Regions from separate parts of the Homo sapiens genome. Here region 2 is linked to region 1. Evidence: fine-mapped QTL for protein levels in blood plasma. A gene starts in region 1. The other region holds a variant in brackets. All regions are shown on one strand. Distances are between the middles of the regions. Region 1 holds the start of CAPN2 (calpain 2). Region 2 overlaps CAPN2 (calpain 2).

Region 1 (2,918 bases):
ACAACAGGAATCTAGAAGTTGGACTTCAGGGCAGGCTTTCCTAGGCGTGGTAGGGGAAGCCTGGGGAAGTGTCCCAAAGGAGGAGGAGCCTCAGGGGTTCCCCAAGAAACAGAATGGACAAGTAGATTGGGGAGCACAAGTTGTCCCAGGGCCGGGAGGTCAGAGACCCTGGGGGACGGGATAAGGGGGTCTGGAGGGCTCCCGGAGGTTTCCCGGGTGATTCCCGCCAGGGAAACCATGAGACACCTCCGTGTCCTGGGTTAATTACCAGTGTCAATGTTATGAGGAGGTATCGCTGGCTCCCCTTTGGAAAAATAAATCTAACCCCAGGGCTGCAGGAGACTATCCTTAGTCACAAAATGACCAGGCTATGGCCTGTCCCCCTCCATGAACAGACAGAACCCCAGTTGGAGACGGACTTTGTCTGGTAGATGCTGCCTCTCACCGTCCCTTCCCTGCAGACCCGATTCCCCTTCCCTTCCAGCTCCCCGCTAGAGTCCAATCAAAGTTTCACCCCGGCCTCCTGCATCACCCTGAGTTTTTGTGAAGTCCTAAAGTGGCCTGCTAGTGGGATCTGAGGGCAGTGATTCGCCTCGACCCGCCCAGGAAAGCGTGGTGGGTGGAAGAGAGGGAAGGCCCCGGGAGTCCCCCCACGCTCGAACAGAGTCCCGGGCTCTGGCGGCGCGGAGGTGTCGCAGGACTGCGAGGTCCTGGCTTGCGGCTTCCCCACTGCAGCACCCGGGCTGCCCCCCGCCCCAGCGCGCCGCGGGCCGGCCTGCACCCCGCCCTGCCCGGCACCCCGCCCTGCCCGCGTCCTGCCGCGCGCTTCCTACCGTGGGGCGCTTCCACTCGATGCCCCGGGTTTTGCTGGAGTAGGGCCCCAACTCCTTGAAGCCCAGGGCCGAGGGGATGGCCGGGAAGGACGGGTCCTGGAAGAGCGTCCCGGCCTCCAGGCACTCGTTCCGCAGCGCCTCGTAGTCCTGGTTGAGGTACTTGATGGCCCTGTCGTGGGAGCCCAGCCCCTCGGCCGCCTCCCGGTCCTTCGCCAGCTTGGCCGCGATGCCCGCCATGCTGCGGTCCCGGCGGCCGTACTGCGCAGAGAAAGGTCGGGGCGACTCCGCGCTGCGCTCGGCTGGGGCGCGGCCAGGGCCCGGCGCGCTGCTGCGGCCACTGCGGGCGCCGCCGCTGCGAGCGATGATTCACCGGAGGGAAGCGGCCCGGCCCGCGGGGTGTGGCCTCAGCCGCTCCCGGCCTGCTGGGCTCCCGGCCCGGGACCAGGCCATCCTGCGGCCTGCCGAGCGCCGGGAACGCCGCGACCCGGGGCCGGTGCTGCCATCTGCGGACAGCTCCCGGGATGGCGCGGCCCGGCGCCGGGGAGGCTCGCGAATCGCGGTCCAGAGTTGGGGCTCCCACCGGAACCCGAGGCCACCTTTGCAGCCCATAGGGAAGAAGGCTAGGATAGTTGTGGCCGTCCGGAAAACACCCGGGGAGTTAGCAGAGGGTCAGGTAGTGAAGTCGAGGAAACTAAACCAGCTGCCCTGAACTTTGTGCCAAACAGCGTCTTAACGGCTCTGCATACATCATCTCATTTAATCCTCCCAGCGACTCTGAAGAAGGCGCTGATATTGTCCCCATTTTACAGATGAGAAAACTGAGCCTCGGAGACGCTAAATGACGTCCCCAATGTGGCACAACAGTCACAGGCAGAACAGGGACTCTAAGCCACCGGAGGCCTATTGCAATCACAATGCTGCAATTACTACTGCTCAGCTGTTTATTTGATTATAGATAGGGTTGTCAGATTTGGCCAATAAGGCTGGGTGCGGTAGTTCACACCTGTAATCCCAACACTTTGGGAGGCCGGAGGCAGGCGGATCACCTGGGGTCAGGAGTTCGAGACCAGCCTGGTCAACATGGTGAAATTCCGTCTCTACTAAAAATACGTCGTGGCAGGCACCTGTGATCTCAGTTACTCGGGAGGCTGAGACAGGAGAAACGCTTGAACCCAGGAGGGAGAAGTTGCAGTGAGACGAGATCGCGCCACTGCGCTCCAGCCTGGGTGACAAAGCGAAACTCCATATCAAAAATAAAATAAAATAAAATGATTTGGCCAATAAAACAACAACCCTCCCAAATGTTTAATTTGAATTTCAGATAAACAACAGATACTTTTAAAGTATATGTAGGGCCCAAATATTGCATGGGCATACATACTTATTCTAAAAGAAAATATGATTCATTGTTTACCTGAAACTCATATTTAACTGGCAGGATTAGTTGGGTTACTATAGGGAGAGAGCATTTAGAATACTGCCTGTGTTGGCTACTGTGACCACTCTGTTGTGGAGCTAGGGTGTGATTCTCATCTCACACACAGAGACATGGGTGCGTGCCAAGAAATGCAGATGGGCAGAAATTACCTCCTCTTCTTCTCTACAGTAGTAGGGAAGAATTTGGGTTTCACTGGAAAACTGTGCATGGTCTACAGCAGTGGTTCTCAACTGGGGGCAGTTTTGTCCCCTACCCACCCCAGGAGACATTTGGGAATGTCTGGAGATAGTTTTTATGGTCACAGCTAGGAGATGAGGTGCTACTGGCCTTTACTAAGTAGAAGCCAGGGATGCCGCTGAACATCTTCCAATGTCCAAGATAGCTCTTGTGAACCCAGAAAATCTGAAACAGGTCTCATTTAATTTAGAAAGTTTCTTTTGCCATGGTTGAAGATGCACACCTGTGACACAGGAAGTCCTGAGGACATGTGCCCGAGGTGGTTGGGGTGCAGCTTGGTTTTATACATGTTAGGGAGGCAAGAGCCATCAGTCAAGTACATTTAAGAAATACATTGGTTTGGTTCAGAAAGGCGGGACAACTCAAAGTGGCGGGGGGTGGTGGGTGGGTAGTGGGGGTGGCTTCCAGGA
Region 2 (2,918 bases), 55 kb before region 1:
AATATTGTGAAAATGGCCATACTGCCCAAGGTAATTTACAGATTCAATGCCATCCCCATCAAGCTACCAATGACTTTCTTCACAGAATTGGAAAAAACTACTTTAAAGTTCATATGGAACCAAAAAAGAGCCCGCATCGCCAAGTCAATCCTGAGCCAAAAGAACAAAGCTGGAGGCATCACACTACCTGACTTCAAACTATACTACAAGGCTACAGTAACCAAAACAGCATGGTACTGGTACCAAAACAGATATAGATCAATGGAACAGAACAGAGCCCTCAGAAATAACGCCGTATCTACAACTATCTGATCTTTGATAAACCTGAGAAAAACAAGCAATGGGGAAAGGATTCCCTATTTAATAAATGGTGCTGGGAAAACTGGCTAGCCATATGTAGAAAGCTGAAACTGGATCCCTTCCTTACACCTTATACAAAAATCAATTCAAGATGGATTAAAGACTTAAACGTTAGACCTAAAACCATCAAAACCCTAGAAGAAAACCTAGGCATTACCATTCAGGACATAGGCATGGGCAAGGACTTCATGTCTAAAACACCAAAAGCAATGGCAACAAAAGCCAAAATTGACAAATGGGATCTAATTAAACTAAAGAGCTTCTGCACAGCAAAAGAAACTACCATCAGAGTGAACAGGCAACCTACAAAATGGGAGAAAATTTTCGCAACCTGCTTATCTGACAAAGGGCTAATATCCAGAATCTACAATGAACTCCAACAAATTTACAAGAAAAAAACAAACAACCCCATCAAAAAGTGGGCAAAGGACATGAACAGACACTTCTCAAAAGAAGACATTTATGCAGCCAAAAAACACATGAAAAAATGCTCACCATCACTGGCCATCAGAGAAATGCAAATCAAAACCATAATGAGATACCATCTCACACCAGTTAGAATGGCAATCATTAAAAAGTCAGGAAACAACAGGTGCTGGAGAGGATGTGGAGAAATAGGAACACTTTTACACTGTTGGTGGGACTGTAAACTAGTTCAACCATTGTGGAAGTCAGTGTGGCGATTCCTCAGGGATCTAGAACTAGAAATATCATTTGACCCAGCCATCCCATTACTGGGTATATACCCAAAGGACTATAAATCATGCTGCTATAAAGACACATGCACACGTATGTTTATTGCGGCATTATTCACAATAGCAAAGACTTGGAACCAACCCAAATGTCCAACAACGATAGACTGGATTAAGAAAATGTGGCTCATATACACCATGGAATACTATGCAGCCATAAAAAATGATGAGTTCATGTCCTTTGTAGGGACATGGATGAAATTGGAAATCATCATTCTCAGTAAACTATCGCAAGAACAAAAAACCAAACACCGCATATTCTCACTCATAGGTGGGAATTGAACAATGAGAACACATGGACACAGGAAGGGGAACATCACACTCTGGGGACTGTTGTGGGGTGGGGGGAGGGGGGAGGGATGGCATTGGGAGATATACCTAATGCTAGATGACGAGTTAGTGGGTGCAAAGCACCAGCATGGCACATGTATACATATGTAACTAACCTGCACATTGTGCACATGTACCCTAAAACTTAAAGTATAATAATAAAAAATAAATAAATAAATAAATAAAGAAGA[C/A]GACGATCTTGATCAGACAAAACAGATTCACATCAGAAATACTGTGGTTAGGGAATATTTTCCTAGAGGAAGTAATGGAAACACATCACTGAGGAAACAAATTCGAGCTGCTTTGTGCAAAGAAGTGATGGGCATATTGTCAGGAATTTCCCGCACCAGCCCCAGGAATGGACTGGTGGGCCTACATTCTTTTTCTTTTTTTTTTTTTGGCGATGAGTCACGCTCTGTCACCCAGGCTGGAGTGCAGTGGCGCGATCTCAGCTCACTGCAACCTCCGCCTCCCAGGTTCAAGTGATTCTCCTGCCTCAGCCTCCTGAGTAGCTGGGATTACAGGTGCCCGCCACCACACCCAGCTAATTTTTGTATTTTTAGTAGAGACAAGGTTTCACCATGTTGGTCAGGCTGGTCTCGAACTCCTGACCTCGTGAGTCAGGAGGCCCACCTTGGCCTTCCAAAGTGCTGGGATTACAGGCATGAGCCACCGCCCGCCATGGGCCTGCATTCTAAGCCTTTCAGGGTAGGTGGGAGGGGGGGTGTAGCATTTGCTTTCCCTCATCAGAGGGTTCTCGCATTTCCCTAGTAAGGGAGGTCAGCGCTGCTGACTGTCCGACAGCAACTCAGCAAGTTGGGAACAACTGGCTATTTTGAAAAGGGAGAAGGCCATGTGTTTGAATCTTTCTGGAGTGAGATTTTAAACTCCCCCAGTCTCTATTCCCTGGAGCACATTAAAGGATACATCTAGCATGTCAACCATAATTTTGCATGTCTCGATGCTGAAGCCATCTGACTTGATATCTTGGCCTAAAAGACAAAATCAGTGTGACAGGAAAAATCTCTGAGCGGTGATGTCCAACTGAACTTTCCACAATCATGGAGATATTCTTTATCTGTGCCCTTCACATACAGAAGCCACTTCCATTATATTAAATAGCCACATGTGGCTAGTGACTACCAGACTGGGACAGTGCAGATGATGTCCACATTGTCCTGATGTCTCTGTATATTTGCCGTGGGCAAACAGGGCTTTAAAAAGTGCTTTTTGAACAAATAAATAACAGAATGATCAATGGTTGGGCCTTAGGTGCCCACAGGATATAAAGTCACCTGTAGTTGTTGGGCAGGGAAAAAGAAAACAGAGAGCAGGTGTGTTAATTCTAGGCTATGACCCGTGAGAGAAAGAGGTTTACTTGAACTGTCCATCTGCAGACATTTATGGACTGTGTCCCCAGCTGACTGAGAAACCTGAGGAACTGGGATCGATCCACGAGCTATTTGTGCTGCACTA

What was found. A credible set is the group of variants that fine-mapping cannot tell apart. PIP is the posterior inclusion probability: the model's chance that the variant is causal. Protein levels are from the aptamer-based SomaScan assay of Sun 2018.
Region 2: its variant is the best candidate, but not a certain one, in a credible set for the plasma level of the CAPN2 protein (Sun 2018, PIP 0.54).

Annotation. Positions count from the first base shown.
Region 1 is chr1:223,710,793-223,713,710 of GRCh38, reverse strand. It overlaps CAPN2 (calpain 2), which reads right to left and starts at 1,172. Exons shown (of 21, transcript NM_001748.5): 1 at 834-1,172. The coding sequence starts at 1,070. RefSeq lists silencers at 706-825, 1,036-1,425 and enhancers at 535-1,486, 1,526-1,575.
Region 2 is chr1:223,765,883-223,768,800 of GRCh38, reverse strand. It overlaps CAPN2 (calpain 2), which reads right to left. Exons shown (of 21, transcript NM_001748.5): 16 at 2,370-2,434. Among named protein-coding and RNA genes, the nearest start is that of CAPN2, 55 kb to the right of the region's middle. The variant C/A (reference allele first, on the strand shown) is at 1,634.